Linked DNA regions of Homo sapiens: region 2 is linked to region 1. Evidence: fine-mapped expression QTL. Tissue or cell type: whole blood. Region 1 holds a variant in brackets; the other region holds the start of a gene. All regions are shown on one strand. Distances are between the middles of the regions.

Region 1 (8,166 bases):
CTGCCTTCTCAGTCCCTCATGTCCACGACGGCCTTTGGTCTGGGCTCTAAGTACTTCGCGCTGTATGAGGTGGCCGGCGTGGGCATCCAGTGGCACACCTTCAGCCAGTCCCCGGTGGAGGGGGACGACTTCAACTTGCTCCTGGCTGTCACCATGCTGATGGTGGACGCCGTGGTCTATGGCATCCTCACGTGGTACATTGAGGCTGTGCACCCAGGTACTGGCCAGCCCTTGGAGGGCAGGGGAGAGGCAGGGGTCCCCAGCCAGGGTTGGGGACCAGCAGTCTGTGTCCACTCCTGGATGCAGCACGGGTGGCTCCCTGGGTGGGCACGTGGCCCACGTGGTGGATGGTCACCCCAGGCCCTAGGTCAGCCTCCCCTCCCCTCCCCGACCCCCAGGCATGTACGGGCTGCCCCGGCCCTGGTACTTCCCACTGCAGAAGTCCTACTGGCTGGGCAGTGGGCGGACAGAAGCCTGGGAGTGGAGCTGGCCGTGGGCACGCACCCCCCGCCTCAGTGTCATGGAGGAGGACCAGGCCTGTGCCATGGAGAGCCGGCGCTTTGGTGAGGCTGGCATCAGAATGGTGGCTGGGGTGGGCGCTGGGTTCAGAGTCCTGGGTGGCCTTGGCGCCGCCCCCACCCTGCTGATCCACAGCCCTGGTGCAGAGGAGACCCGTGGCATGGAGGAGGAGCCCACCCACCTGCCTCTGGTTGTCTGCGTGGACAAACTCACCAAGGTCTACAAGGACGACAAGAAGCTGGCCCTGAACAAGCTGAGCCTGAACCTCTACGAGAACCAGGTGGTCTCCTTCTTGGGCCACAACGGGGCGGGCAAGACCACCACCATGTGAGTGTCGGAGGGGCAGGGCGGTGGGCATCTGCTGACCAGAGCAGGAGTCCTAGTCAGGGCAGGGTGGGGCCCCTGCAGAGGGCGTGGGGTCATGACCCCGCCCACCTACCCAGGTCCATCCTGACCGGCCTGTTCCCTCCAACGTCGGGTTCCGCCACCATCTACGGGCACGACATCCGCACGGAGATGGATGAGATCCGCAAGAACCTGGGCATGTGCCCGCAGCACAATGTGCTCTTTGACCGGCTCACGGTGGAGGAACACCTCTGGTTCTACTCACGGCTCAAGAGCATGGCTCAGGAGGAGATCCGCAGAGAGATGGACAAGTGGGTGGGCTGGGCGGGGGGCGGGGCAGGTGGGCGGAGGCCCTGGGGCTCTGCATAGCAGCAGCCCCATGCCCCACCTCCCTGTCCCAGGATGATCGAGGACCTGGAGCTCTCCAACAAACGGCACTCACTGGTGCAGACATTGTCGGGTGGCATGAAGCGCAAGCTGTCCGTGGCCATCGCCTTCGTGGGCGGCTCTCGCGCCATCATCCTGGACGAGCCCACGGCGGGCGTGGACCCCTACGCGCGCCGCGCCATCTGGGACCTCATCCTGAAGTACAAGCCAGGTGAGTGGGGTGCCGTGTGGGCAGGGGTGCGGGCGGCGCCTCCCCTGCCCCCTGACCCTGGGTCTGGCCTTGTCCTAGGCCGCACCATCCTTCTGTCCACCCACCACATGGATGAGGCTGACCTGCTTGGGGACCGCATTGCCATCATCTCCCATGGGAAGCTCAAGTGCTGCGGCTCCCCGCTCTTCCTCAAGGGCACCTATGGCGACGGGTACCGCCTCACGCTGGTCAAGCGGCCCGCCGAGCCGGGGGGCCCCCAAGGTCTGTGTTGAAGCTGCCTGAGCTGGCTTCGGGCCACCTTCTCCCCGGGACCCCCACCTGAGAATCCACAATGGAGAGGCTGGGCCCTCACCGTCACCCGCTGGGCCCAGGATGCCTGCTGGGGCCTGGCCCGCCCTCTGCAACGCCCGTATCTTGGAGAGGCTGGGTCCTCAGCGTCACCCCCTGGGCCCAGGATACCTGCTGGGGCCTGGTTCTTCCTCTCCAATGCCCATATCTTGACCCAGTTGGGTTCCCATTGGGGGTCCCTCCTCCCAGCCCCTGAGTGAATTCCTTCCTGCTCCCACGTCCCCCACAGAGCCAGGGCTGGCATCCAGCCCCCCAGGTCGGGCCCCGCTGAGCAGCTGCTCCGAGCTCCAGGTGTCCCAGTTCATCCGCAAGCATGTGGCCTCCTGCCTGCTGGTCTCAGACACAAGCACGGAGCTCTCCTACATCCTGCCCAGCGAGGCCGCCAAGAAGGGGGCTTTCGAGCGCCTCTTCCAGGTGTGAGGGCGCACGGGTCGGGGGGCAGTTGCAGGTGGTGGAGGTGGGCGCACTCCTGCCTGGGCGTCCCTGCCGCAGCCTCCCCCTCCACCGCCCCTGCAGCACCTGGAGCGCAGCCTGGATGCACTGCACCTCAGCAGCTTCGGGCTGATGGACACGACCCTGGAGGAAGTGTTCCTCAAGGTGTCGGAGGAGGATCAGTCGCTGGAGAACAGTGAGGCCGGTGAGGGGCCTGGACCACTTGCTCAGCCCACCCCACCCACAAGGCCCCAGCTCGGGCCTGCGCTGTCACTCCTGCCTGGTGTCTGGGGGCGCCACCCTGGTCCTGGGTGGAAGCCAGGGGACGCCCCGGGGTTAGCCTGCGGTCCTAGGTGGGTGGTCCTGGTGGCCAGAGGTCCCGGACAGGTGTATGAGCCTGGGAACTGGGGTCAAGACCGGGGATGGGGGTCCTGGGCAGGCCTAGGGGCCAGTAGCCCTGAGTGTCCCCTCGGCCCTTCCACTGCGGCAGATGTGAAGGAGTCCAGGAAGGATGTGCTCCCTGGGGCGGAGGGCCCGGCGTCTGGGGAGGGTCACGCTGGCAATCTGGCCCGGTGCTCGGAGCTGACCCAGTCGCAGGCATCGCTGCAGTCGGCGTCATCTGTGGGCTCTGCCCGTGGCGACGAGGGAGCTGGCTACACCGACGTCTATGGCGACTACCGCCCCCTCTTTGATAACCCACAGGACCCAGACAATGTCAGCCTGCAAGGTGGGGGTGGCAGGGTGAGGCTGGGACAGCAAGGGAGGGGGAGCAGGGTTGCGGGGGAGCGGCATGAGGGCAGCCAGTAGGGAGAGGGTAGCGTGCAACCACCTGCTCAGCCTCTACCTCTCTGCACAGAGGTGGAGGCAGAGGCCCTGTCGAGGGTCGGCCAGGGCAGCCGCAAGCTGGACGGCGGGTGGCTGAAGGTGCGCCAGTTCCACGGGCTGCTGGTCAAACGCTTCCACTGCGCCCGCCGCAACTCCAAGGCACTCTTCTCCCAGATCTTGCTGCCAGCCTTCTTCGTCTGCGTGGCCATGACCGTGGCCCTGTCCGTCCCGGAGATTGGTAGGCCACCGGCTGGACAGGGGTGCTGGGCTTGCCTCCCCCCACCGCCCGCTGGGAGCCCTGATGATGCCCACTCCTGAGCTTCCTGACTCTGGGCCTCACCCCACACCTGAGGCTGGGCACGCACCGGGGTTCATCCGGGAGTCCTGTCTCCTCGGGTCCCAGACCCCAGGCGTGGATCCCTTGGGGTTGGGGGAAGGGGACCGAGGCTTGGGGGCCGCTGGCCAGAGGGCAGAACCTGCTCAGGCCTCCCTGCTCGCCCTGCCAGGTGATCTGCCCCCGCTGGTCCTGTCACCTTCCCAGTACCACAACTACACCCAGCCCCGTGGCAATTTCATCCCCTACGCCAACGAGGAGCGCCGCGAGTACCGGTGAGGCCTCCAGCGGGGGCAGCCTTGGTGGGTGGGGCGAGTGAAGGGGCGGGGACAGCCTTGGTGGGCCAGGCGGGCGAGGGGGCGGGGCTGGCGAGGGGCGGAGACTGGCAGCCCCACCTCACACTGTCGGTGCCCGCAGGCTGCGGCTATCGCCCGACGCCAGCCCCCAGCAGCTCGTGAGCACGTTCCGGCTGCCGTCGGGGGTGGGTGCCACCTGCGTGCTCAAGTCTCCCGCCAACGGCTCGCTGGGGCCCACGTTGAACCTGAGCAGCGGGGAGTCGCGCCTGCTGGCGGCTCGGTTCTTCGACAGCATGTGTCTGGAGTCCTTCACACAGGGGCTGCCACTGTCCAATTTCGTGCCACCCCCACCCTCGCCCGCCCCATCTGACTCGCCAGCGTCCCCGGATGAGGACCTGCAGGCCTGGAACGTCTCCCTGCCGCCCACCGCTGGGCCAGGTAGTGGTTCAGGGGGCCTGCTGGGGGGGCAGGGGCAGTGAGGGGTCCTTCTCACCGCACCATGCTGTGCCCACAGAAATGTGGACGTCGGCACCCTCCCTGCCGCGCCTGGTACGGGAGCCCGTCCGCTGCACCTGCTCTGCGCAGGGCACCGGCTTCTCCTGCCCCAGCAGTGTGGGCGGGCACCCGCCCCAGATGCGGGTGGTCACAGGCGACATCCTGACCGACATCACCGGCCACAATGTCTCTGAGTACCTGCTCTTCACCTCCGACCGCTTCCGACTGCACCGGTGAGCTGGGTGGGGAGGCTGTGGGTGAGGGTGGCCGGCCACCAGCCACCTAGTCTCAACTCCTGCCCCTCTAGCCTCACTGCCTGCCTAGCCTCACCGCCCCTCCCACCTGCCTGCCCAGGTATGGGGCCATCACCTTTGGAAACGTCCTGAAGTCCATCCCAGCCTCATTTGGCACCAGGGCCCCACCCATGGTGCGGAAGATCGCGGTGCGCAGGGCTGCCCAGGTGAGCGAGGCTGCGGGCCTGGGCCCCGCTGTGTGTAGCGCC[G/A]CCCGAGGTCTGCAGGGACCCAGGTCTGAGGTCCTGGGGCCTTTCTGTGTCCTCTTCCTTCTGCAGGTTTTCTACAACAACAAGGGCTATCACAGCATGCCCACCTACCTCAACAGCCTCAACAACGCCATCCTGCGTGCCAACCTGCCCAAGAGCAAGGGCAACCCGGCGGCTTACGGTGAGCTGACATAGGCAGGGCGGGGCGGGGCGGGGAGGAGCTGGGGCCGGGGCGGGGAGGAGCTGGGGCCTGAAGCTGCCGCCCCCGCCCCGCCGTGTGCAGGCATCACCGTCACCAACCACCCCATGAATAAGACCAGCGCCAGCCTCTCCCTGGATTACCTGTAAGTGTGGCCAGTGGGGGATGAGGTGGGGCAGGTGGGCACTGCAGCCCCGGCCGTGAGGACTGAGGGCTTCCTTGCCCCAGGCTGCAGGGCACGGATGTCGTCATCGCCATCTTCATCATCGTGGCCATGTCCTTCGTGCCGGCCAGCTTCGTTGTCTTCCTCGTGGCCGAGAAGTCCACCAAGGCCAAGCACCTGCAGTTTGTCAGCGGCTGCAACCCCATCATCTACTGGCTGGCGAACTACGTGTGGGACATGGTGCGCCCGGCGTGGCCATGGGGTGCCCCGGCCCTTCTCATCCCCCATCCCCGCCCTGCCCCGGGTCTCTCACCAGCCGCCCCCACCCCTGCAGCTCAACTACCTGGTCCCCGCTACCTGCTGTGTCATCATCCTGTTTGTGTTCGACCTGCCGGCCTACACGTCGCCCACCAACTTCCCTGCCGTCCTCTCCCTCTTCCTGCTCTATGGGTAAGCGGAAGCGGAGGGGGGAGCGGCCTCAGGTGGGACCGGGGCTGCCTGGTGACCACTGCCCGCCACCTGCCCGCAGGTGGTCCATCACGCCCATCATGTACCCGGCCTCCTTCTGGTTCGAGGTCCCCAGCTCCGCCTACGTGTTCCTCATTGTCATCAATCTCTTCATCGGCATCACCGCCACCGTGGCCACCTTCCTGCTACAGCTCTTCGAGCACGACAAGGTGGGGCGGTGACGACATGGTGGGGGTGGCGGACCCTGCGGAGGCTGTGCCCCTCACCCCGGCCACCCCTGTGCCCCTGACCCCGGCCACCCCGCAGGACCTGAAGGTTGTCAACAGTTACCTGAAAAGCTGCTTCCTCATTTTCCCCAACTACAACCTGGGCCACGGGCTCATGGAGATGGCCTACAACGAGTACATCAACGAGTACTACGCCAAGATTGGTGAGGGGGCCCGTGGGGCGGGGAAGGCGGTGGGGGCCCCGCAAGGCCCAGAGCACAGGCCCTGAGCTGTCTCCCCGCAGGCCAGTTTGACAAGATGAAGTCCCCGTTCGAGTGGGACATTGTCACCCGCGGACTGGTGGCCATGGCGGTTGAGGGCGTCGTGGGCTTCCTCCTGACCATCATGTGCCAGTACAACTTCCTGCGGCGGCCACAGTGAGTGGGGGGCGGGGTGGGGCGGGGGCGGGGCGGGAGCAGGGATGGGTTCGGGGGTGGGGCAGGGTAGGGGCGGGGGTGGGGGCAGGGATGGGGCAGGAGGGGGTGAGGCAGGGGACAGCAGAGGGGCCTGCCCACCCTTCTTACATGCCACAGCCAGAGGATGCGAGGCTGGTGGCAGGGAGGGGCAGTGGGGGTGGCGAGCTGCTGGACACTGTCCACCCTGTCCCCCAAGGCGCATGCCTGTGTCTACCAAGCCTGTGGAGGATGATGTGGACGTGGCCAGTGAGCGGCAGCGAGTGCTCCGGGGAGACGCCGACAATGACATGGTCAAGATTGAGAACCTGACCAAGGTGGGCTCTGGGCATGTAGGGTGGGGCCTGGGTGGGGTAGGCCAGGGCCAGGGGGGTGGGGCCCCAGCAGTGGAGGTGGAGCCTGGGTGGGCAGGGCCCTGAGCTCTGGGGGTGGGGCCTGCATGGGGTGGGGCTGTGGGGCACGTGGCCCCCTGGGCTCTGGAGGTGGGGCAGGGTCTGGGTGGGGTGGGGCCAGAGGGGCAGGGTGGGGGCAGGATGCCCCGCTGAGTGGGCAGGCTCCTGGCCAGGTCTACAAGTCCCGGAAGATTGGCCGTATCCTGGCCGTTGACCGCCTGTGCCTGGGTGTGCGTCCTGGCGAGTGCTTCGGGCTCCTGGGCGTCAACGGTGCGGGCAAGACCAGCACCTTCAAGATGCTGACCGGCGACGAGAGCACGACGGGGGGCGAGGCCTTCGTCAATGGACACAGGTGGGGCGGGAGCCCTGGGTGGGCGGGGCCGCCGCGTCCTCACGCGCTGACAGCTGCCGTGTCCCCAGCGTGCTGAAGGAGCTGCTCCAGGTGCAGCAGAGCCTCGGCTACTGCCCGCAGTGTGACGCGCTGTTCGACGAGCTCACGGCCCGGGAGCACCTGCAGCTGTACACGCGGCTGCGTGGGATCTCCTGGAAGGACGAGGCCCGGGTGAGGATCTGTGGGGCGGGGCAGGGAGTCAGCACGCTGGGTGGCCCTGCCTCCACTGACACCTGCGTTCCCTGGCCAGGTGGTGAAGTGGGCTCTGGAGAAGCTGGAGCTGACCAAGTACGCAGACAAGCCGGCTGGCACCTACAGCGGCGGCAACAAGCGGAAGCTCTCCACGGCCATCGCCCTCATTGGGTACCCAGCCTTCATCTTCCTGGTAAGTCCTGGGTGGGTGGGGGGTGGCTGCCTGGCCTTTGACTTCCTGGTGAGCACGGGCAGGGGCAGCGTTCAGGCTGGGGTGTGTGGGCCTGGCAGCAGCTGAGCCTGCCACCCATCCCCAGGACGAGCCCACCACAGGCATGGACCCCAAGGCCCGGCGCTTCCTCTGGAACCTCATCCTTGACCTCATCAAGACAGGGCGTTCAGTGGTGCTGACATCACACAGGTGAGGGCGCCCCCACCCCCTCTTTGTGCCCCCACCCCACAGCACCCCTTCCGGTGCCAGCCTGTGCATGTCCCACAGCATGGAGGAGTGCGAGGCGCTGTGCACGCGGCTGGCCATCATGGTGAACGGTCGCCTGCGGTGCCTGGGCAGCATCCAGCACCTGAAGAACCGGTGAGCCGGGGCAGGGCCAGGGGTGGGCTGGGGCGGGCCCGGGGGGGGCGGCCAGGCAGCGGGGCCAGGAGTGGGGGTGGCTGCAGGGCTGTGAGGGCTGTGGGGCCAGGGGGGCTGGGGGCACTGGGGCTGGGGGGACTGGGGCAGTGGGGCCAGGGGAGGAGCCTGGAGGGCTGTGGGGGCTGTGGGGTTGGGGGGCTGTGGGAGGCTATGGGGCTTCCTGGGGTGCCTGTGGGGGCTGTAGGGCTGGGAGGCTGGGGGGCTGGGGCTCTGGCTGGGCGGCGCAGGGCTCCGGGCCACCGGCCTGTCCCACCAGGTTTGGAGATGGCTACATGATCACGGTGCGGACCAAGAGCAGCCAGAGTGTGAAGGACGTGGTGCGGTTCTTCAACCGCAACT
Region 2 (8,166 bases), 57 kb before region 1:
TTGCCAGTTCTTCACTTGGTGCCCACTGCTGGGGATACATCAGGGGACAGAGGGGCCGGTCTTCCTGCCACCTCTGCCCAGAGTGGTCCAGGCTTACACAGTGAGAACACAATTACAGCTAAGATGGGGCCTCCAAAAGTACAGGGACAGCATGGGACCCCCAGGGGTGACACAGCACTAAAACCTGAAGGATTGGGAAACTATCAGGCCAGCCGGAAAGTGGAGTGAAGGAGGAAGTGGTCAGAGCTCAGGACAGGAAGGACACAGGACCACATCTTAGCTCCACGCCCAAAGCCAGGCACAGCCTCCAGTCTTTTTTTTTTTTTTTGAGACGGAGTCTCGCTCTGTCGCCCAGGCTGGAGTGCAGTGGTGCCATCTCGGCTCACTGCAAGCTCCGCCTCCTGGATTCACGCCATTCTCCTGCCTCAGCCTCCCGAATAGATGGGACTACAGACGCCCGCCACCACGCCCGGCTCATTTTTTGTGTGTGTGTGTGTTTTTAGTAGAGACGGGGTTTCACCATGTTAGCCAGGATGGTCTCGATCTCCAGACCTCGTGATCCTCCCGCCTTGGCCTCCCAAAGTGCTGGGATTACAGGCATGAGCCACCGTGCCCAGCCTTTTTTTTTTTTTTTTTTTGAGATGGAGTTTTGCTCTTCTTGACCAGGCTAGAGTGCAATGGCGCGATCTTGGCTCACCGCAACCTCCACCTCCGGGGTTCAAGCTATTCTCCTGCCTCAGCCTCCCGAGTAGCTGGGATTACAGGCATGGGCCACCATGCCCGGCTAATTTCGTATTTTTAGTAGAGACGGGATTTCTCCATGTTGGTCAGGCTGGTCTCGAACTCCTGACCTCAGGTGATCCGCCCGCCTTGGCCTCCCAAAGTGCTGGGATTACAGGCGTGAGCCACCGTGCCCGGCCTCCAGTCTTTTTCATACCTTCCTCCAATACCCAGCCAGGGGCCACAGAGAAGCCCACAGACCAAGGGCCAGCTGGGGCCGCCTCCCCCAAGGCTCTGGATGGTATGAAAAGCCCTTGTTTCATCTGCACGGTGGGTTCAGTTCCATGCGGGGCCATGGCTGGCCTGGCCTGGACACTGCTGGCCACGCTGTCCTGAGCTGCAGCAGCCTTGCTCACTGCTGGCCACCGACTCCACATCCACACTGGCCTCCCCTGCCATACCACTGAGCTGTTCCCAGCCCTTCCCCATCCCTTAGGCCTCAGCCTGGCTTGGTGCCCACTCAAGGATGGTGTTTCCCATATGATTTCACTGGATACGGCTCCCCAGTGCCATTCACAGAGCACCCACTGTGGGCCAGGCCAATGCCAGGCCTAGAAGGAGCCCTGTCCTGCTTGCAAATAGCCAGGGCCCCCTGGGCCAGGAGAAAGCTGTCCCCTGTGTTTTATCTAACTAGGCTTCAGGGGGAAGGGGACTGGGGCCAGAGCAGAGTTCTGAAGGATGTAGTGCGGTCAGCCTGGAGCAGAGGGGAAGGGCCTTCCTGGTAGAAGAGCCACCAGGCACAGGGGCCTGGAAGTGAGGGAGTGCAGGGACCCCAGGCCTGGCACTGGCGGTGAGGGGTGTGCTGGAAGCAGGGTAGGTGTGGGGATGGGGGGGCGGGGGCTTGCGTGTTGTGCTGGTTTGTTTTGTTTTGTTTTGTTTTTGAGACAAGATCTCGCTCTGTCACCCAGGATGGAGAGCAGTGGCTCAATCACAGCTCACTGCAGCCTCAACCTCTTGGGTTCAAGGGATCCTCCCACCTCAGCCTCCCAAATACCTGGGACCACAGGCATGCACCACCACGCCTGGCTAATTTTTTAAACTTTTTGTAGAAATAGGGTTGCCTTATGTTGCCCAGGCTGGTCTTGAACTCCCCAGCTCAAGTGATCCTCCCGCCTCGGCCTCGTGCTGGGTTTTTGAGCAGACCAGCCATTAAAGGGGAAGCTGGCTTACAGGACCAAGCTCTGATGGGCTGCTCCAGGCTCAGAGCTTCTTATGTCCTTCCAGCATTCCCTACGATGAAGGAGTCCCACTTAGAGTGAGTGACCCAGAAGAGAAGTGGACCCAGGATACTCCCTGGCCTGGGAAGATGCCTCTACAGCTTGAGACACAGGCACCAGTGGCTCAGGCCTGAGGACAGAGACCCAGGTAGGTATGCCAGCTGAGGCCTGCCCAGGAGGGAGGGTGGGAGACCCGCAGAGGGCCAAGGCAAGTCTCGGATTGGGGGCCTGTCTGGGGAGGGTGTTTGCACCCTGAACACCTCCCTGGAACCTAGAGGGTACTACTGGCCAGCCCTGAGATGGGCTCCCAGGGCTAGAACCCAGGCTAAGGCCTGGTCTCACCTCCCATGTGGACAGACCAAATGAAGACAGAGTGACCAGATCCCAGCTGGAAACACAGCAGAGGCAGGGGGACAGGGCTGCGGGAGCCAGGAGAGCAGCTGGAGGAGGTGTCCAGCCAGGGGAAGGAGGAGAGGAGAGCAAGAGGCAGAGGGAGCTGGTCACTAGATGGGGATCTGGGGACACAGGAGAAAGTGGCTTTGTTCTGCAGCAGGCAGGCCAGGCCAGACTGTCCCGAGGGACCAGAGGAGGAGCCAGCAGCAGTGGGGACAGAAAGGCCTCTGTGAGTGGGAAGCGCCCAGCTGGCTGGAGCCTACGATCCTCTTGGGGCCCTCCTGGTGGAAGAGAAGGGGGCCGCAGGGTCACCTGTGCTTGCGGCCAGGGAACTAGAGGGGAAAAGTGGGATCTTTGGAGGGGGTGCCCCCCCCCATTCTTACCCCACGAGGCTACCTGGAGACAGGTTTTTTTGTAGGGTGCCAGGCCCCGCCCCTTGGAGAGGTGGCCGGGGCAGCCAGCCACAGCTGGATCCGAGAAAGCGCCTGGCCGCGGCAGGAGGTTTGGTGGGGCTGGGGCGGGGCAGAAAGGAAGGTCTGCGAGGCCAGAGTGGAGCAGGAGCTGGGGGATCCGGTTCCGCCTGCCCAGGGCCTCCGCGCGCCTCCCAGGGCCACTCGGCAAGAAAAAAAAAAAAAAAATCAAACCTCCTCTCAGCCTATCAGAGAGCAGATGGGACGGGCTCGGCCAATGGCCGCGGCGCATGTTAATGAGGGCTGACGCCGCGAGGAGGGCCCCATTCAAAAGTAGTCGCTATTGTCGCCGTGGGCTGAGCTCGCCGGGCCGGCCCCTCCGTGGGGCCGCGCTGGGACGCACGCGGGTGGACGAGGGGACCGATCCCGGGCGCCCATGGCCGGGGCCGCCATGGCCGAGCGGGGCCGCGTGCCTCCCCCCGCACCCGCGCCCAGCACGGAGGGGCTGCCGCGCGCCTTCCTGCAGAGCCTGCGCACCCTGTTCGACATCCTGGACGACCGGCGGCGCGGCTGCGTGCACCTGCGCGAGATCGAGTCCCGCTGGCAGGGCACCGACGCGCGGGAGCTGCCCCGCGGGGTGCTGGAGGGCTTGCGCCAGGTGGCCCCGGCCAGCGGCTACCTGACCTTCGAGCGCTTCGTGGCCGGCCTGCGCACCTCCCTGCTGAGCGCCGACGGCGGCCCCCGGGACCCCACGCGCGCCCCGGCCCGGCCCGGGGATCAGCCGCCGCCGCCGCCGCAGCGCCTGGTGTTCGCTCCGGCCGACGAGCCGCGGACGGTCCTGGAGAGGAAGCCCCTGCCCCTGGGCGTGCGCGCCCCTCTGGCCGGTCCCAGCGCCGCCGCCCGCAGCCCGGAGCAGCTGTGCGCCCCGGCTGAGGCGGCGCCCTGCCCCGCGGAGCCCGAGCGGTCCCAGAGCGCGGCGCTGGAACCGAGCTCCAGCGCGGACGCAGGTGAGTTCCGGACGGCCCCCGGGCACCCTCGTAGCTCTCCCGGGCCCGGGCCAGAAACCGCAGTCCCACAGCTGCTGCCCGTGCATTTCCCACAAGGGACGGGACCGGGGAGCGGCTCTTCGTGGACTCCGGATCCTGGAGGGCGCCTCGGCGGGTCTGGAGGGAAAGGGCTTCATGCTTGTCGCGGTGAGCCCAGGGGCTTGCTTAGGGAGGCAAGCCAGACCCTCTCCTGCCACAGCATAAGGCCACCAGGGCCGGGGGGTGGCAGGTGACTCAGAAAACCCACCGGGAGCCCAACCTGTACCAAGCCTGAGCTTGGGCTCTCCATCTCCAATACCCTTTCCGCACCTGGGGACACCTGGGCCCTCAGCCTCCTGTCTGTGGCTGCTCAGGCAGAAGTGCTTCCTTCTCAAAGAAAGGGTCCCCCTTCTCAGTGTGACAGCTTAGCCAGGGGGGCTGGGCCCACTGACCCCACTGAGGCCTAGGCAGGCGGGGGCTGCTGCTGGTGGCCCAAGAGGACCTGGCCCTGTTGCCAAGATGGGCAGGGGCGTGGGTGGATCTCCTGCACCCCAGTGGGGCTGTACTATGGCAGATGCCATGGAGGGACATAGGCCGTAGTCCCTGGGGATGGCTGGCACACTCCTCTCCTGCCTTCCGGTCCAGTTGGCAGTGATGGGAGATTGCTGAATGGTCCCCTGTCTCCCCCAACCCAGTGCCTGCCTTGGGAACAGGACCTGTATTATGGCTGGGGTTGGGGGGCCAAGCTCCCAGAGGGGCCCCAGGCCCCACAGCCCATTCGGCCTGTGCACCCGTTCTGCCAGGGGAGGCCTGCCCACCGGTGGCTCCTGCCGGTCCCTGTGCTGCCTGCTGCTCTGCCACCCTCCCTGTACTGCTCCCCCACCTCAGCCATATTCTCCAGCCCTACAGCTGGTGTTTGGAGCCACGGCGGCCCTGGCCTCCCTGGTGATCTGATCCAGCAGCCACACCAGGCTGGGGGACCCCTAGTTCTATGGTGAGGGAACCTTCAGAGGGTATCTGGCTCCAAATGCAGGGTCAGCGTCATCCATGTGGCCATGCAGTTTGAAATCAGCCATGGGATTGCACGCTGTGGCCGGGCCTGGGGTTTGGAGGCCTAAGCCTGTGGTCCACCCCTGCTCTGCTCTGATGCCCCATGCGGCACTGGCTCACGTACCACATCTCCCTGAAGGCCACATGGCTAGGGCTGTAGCTGTCACCCTCTCACAGGCAAACGGAGGGCCAGACAAATGGCGTGACATATTTGATTGACACAGCTGGCTTTTGGGGTGTCAAATCTGGAGCTCTGAGGTCACCCCAACTCCCAGAAAGCCTGCCAACACACACAGCCTTCCAAGCCCCCAGCCCAGATGTTCAGGGCCTCTTTCCTTGTTCCCACCTGGGACTGCGTGTTTGCTCCAGGCTGGCTGTGGCCCTGGAGGTGTGGCCTGCTGGCTCAGGGCCCTGGAGGGGCAGAGCCACCACCCCCACCTAGAGGCCATCTAGCTCATCACCCAGCACGCTGCTATCTGGGGACCCAGGAGCTGCTCTATGGACTCAACTGTACAGACCGGGCCCAGGTGTCCTGGGACTTCCTCTATGGCCTCCCTCTGTCTGTACCCTCTCTGCTCCCACCTCCTGAAGGGCTGTGTGCTCTTCCACTGTCTTGCCCCAGAGCTGCCAGCCGCTCAGCACCGCAGGCTGGAGTGCGAATTCGGGCCTGCCTGGAGCCAGGCTCTCTGCCGTGCCTACCTGGGCCCAATTCTTGCATCACTCCCTGACTCCTGTGGCCAGGTGCCAGGGGCATGGCCTCTAAGGATGTGCCTGGTGCTGGGGCTACAGCTGGAGGCCGAAGGAGGATGCCTTCCTCCACACCTGTACCCACTTCTGTAGCCTGGGGAGGTGCACCTACTCCCTCACCAGGAAGCTGGGCCGGAGTGGCACCAACGCGATACTCTTGGCTGCCCCCAGGGGGAGCCCTCAAACAAACTTCAGAGCAGGGGTCTGTGAGCACCAGGACGTGCCTGACTTGTCAGTTGGGTGCACCGCCTGGCGTATCACACACGCGGGACTTTTTTTTTTTTTTTTTTTTTTTTTTTTGAGATGGAGTCTTGCTCTGTCGCCCAGGCTGGAGTGCAGTGGCGCGAATCTCAGCTCACTGCAACCTCCGCCTCCTGGGTTCAAGCGATCCTCCTGCTTCAGCCTCCCGAGTAGCTGGGATTACAGGTGCATGCCACCACGCCCTGCTAATTTTTGTATTTTTAGTAGAGACAGGGTTTCACCATGTTGGCTAGGCTGGTCTTGAACTCCTGACCTCAACTGATCCCCCCCCGCCCCAGCTTCCCAAAGTGCTGGGATTACAGGTGTGAGCCACCGTGCCCGGCAAGGGATCTTTTTTTTTTTTGAGACAAAGTTTTGCTGTGTTGCCCAGCCTGGAGTGCAGTGGCGCAATCTGGGCTCAGTGGAACCTCTGCCTCCCAGGCTCAAGCAATCCTCCTGCCTCAGGCTCCTGAGTAGCCGGGACCACAGGTGCATGCCACTGCACCAGGCTAATTTTTGTGTTTCTAATAGAAATGGGGTATTGCCGGCCGGGCACAGTGGCTCACGCCTGTAATTCCAGCACTTTGGGAGGCTGAGGTGGGTGGATCACCTGAGGTCAGGAGTTCAGGACCAGCCTGGTCAACATGGTGAAACCTCATCTCTACTAAAAAATACAAAAAGTAGCTGGGCATGGTAGTGGGTGTCTGTAATCCCAGCTACTCGGGAGGCTGAGACCGGAGAATCACTTGAACCTGGGAGGCGGAGGTTGCAGTGAGCCAAGATCATACCATTGCACTCCAGCCTGGGCAACAGGAACAAAACAACGTCTCAAGAAAAAAAGGAAGAAATGGGGTTTTGCCATGTTGCCCAGGCTGGTCTCAAACTCCTGAGCTCAAGCGATCCACCCGCCTTGGTCCCCAAAAGTGCTGGGATTACAGGCGTGAGCCACTGTGCCCGGCCATGCGGGACTAACTTTCTATCAGAGTCACCATCCTGGGAAAAGTTAGGTTTCCGTCATTCACACCCACATCTCCTGCTGCCTTGCAGGACCCCGTGCAGATGGGAGAGGCGTAGTCAGGACCAGAACCCCCCCGCCCACTCCTCCCTTACCCAGCTGCCTTGGAGACCCAGGGTGTGCCTGCCATGTTCTGGGCACTGGGTGTGCAGAAGAGAGCTGGATAAGGCCTCTGGCCCCAGAGAGCTCACGGACCGATGAGGGGGCAGGGTGTGTGTTTGAGCAAACATGCGGGCTTGGCGGCACAGCCCTCCCCAAGCCAGTGTGAGGAGCTGGAAAGGGGAGAGGGACCAAACTCCAGCCTGGCACAGAGGCTACACGTGGGCCATGCCAGGCTGGTGCCCGAGACCTCGAGGGTGGGCTGAGATGTGGAGGCCGCTGCACCTCAGCAGAGCCTGGCCAGGCAGGTCTGGAGGTGAGCCAGGCCCATGCCTCTCCATAACAGGTGCAGTGGCGTGCAGGGCCCTGGAGGCGGACTCAGGGGATGCCCGGCGGGCTCCCCGTGCCCGAGGGGAACGTCGGAGGCACACCATCGCCAGCGGCGTGGACTGCGGCCTGGTGAGCAGGGACTGGGGCTCTGTGGGGCTCTCCATCTTGCCTGGAGGCTGGAGGCCGGGATGGGAGCAGGGGGGCCTTGAGCCTGGGGGAGTCCATGGCGGAAGTACAGTCAGCTCTGGACATCTCTCTCCCTACCTGGGCTTGACTCCCCTGGAGGGATGGCCCAGGGTCAGGCAGAGGGAGGTCAAGAGGTCGTTTAGGGCAGCTATGGTGGCTGCCCAGCCCGCCTCACGAGGTTGCTGCTGCAAGCCAGTCTGGCTTCCCAGCTGTGTGCTCACCACAGGCAGACTTCGGGAGGGTGGGCTCAGCTGAAGGGTCCGTCACCCCTCCCCCAGGGAAGCCTGAGTGGAGGGGCTAAGAAAGGCCAAGACCCCTCAGCAGGAGGAACGGGGCTCCTGCTCCAAATGGGCCTATGGGGCTCACACATGCAGGTGTCAGCAGAAGCGTGCGTCCGTGGGTGTTTGCAAACGTGTACACGTGCTGCTGCATTTGTGTCTGTGGCTCTGGTGCCCACCCACAGGTGAGCTCATGCATGTGTGGACGTGTGCGTGCTCACTGGGGCCAGGCATTCCATGTAAATGCACGTATTGCAGCTGAAGCAGATGAAGGAGCTGGAGCAGGAGAAGGAGGTGCTGCTGCAGGGTTTGGAGATGATGGCGCGGGGCCGCGACTGGTACCAGCAGCAGCTGCAACGAGTGCAGGAGCGCCAGCGCCGCCTGGGCCAGAGCAGA

What was found. PIP is the estimated chance that this variant, and not a neighbour inherited with it, causes the effect.
Region 2: SAPCD2 starts here. The variant in region 1 is fine-mapped to the expression of SAPCD2 in whole blood (TOPMed, PIP above 0.99).

What each region holds. Positions count from the first base shown.
Region 1 is chr9:137,008,971-137,017,136 of GRCh38, reverse strand. It overlaps ABCA2 (ATP binding cassette subfamily A member 2), which reads left to right. Exons shown (of 49, transcript NM_001606.5): 19 at 13-217; 20 at 399-563; 21 at 666-846; 22 at 963-1,175; 23 at 1,266-1,462; 24 at 1,541-1,723; 25 at 2,040-2,224; 26 at 2,327-2,447; 27 at 2,733-2,969; 28 at 3,099-3,305; 29 at 3,574-3,676; 30 at 3,819-4,135; 31 at 4,212-4,425; 32 at 4,547-4,652; 14 more. Among named protein-coding and RNA genes, the nearest start is that of LINC02908, 14 kb to the left of the region's middle. RefSeq lists an enhancer at 5,502-6,701. The variant G/A (reference allele first, on the strand shown) is at 4,695.
Region 2 is chr9:137,065,531-137,073,696 of GRCh38, reverse strand. SAPCD2 (suppressor APC domain containing 2) reads left to right here and starts at 3,140. Exons shown (of 6, transcript NM_178448.4): 1 at 3,140-3,807; 2 at 7,323-7,435; 3 at 8,029-8,166. The coding sequence starts at 3,237. RefSeq lists enhancers at 1,999-2,978, 5,539-5,588, 4,941-5,921 and silencers at 3,083-3,492, 3,663-3,712, 3,763-3,812, 5,189-5,238.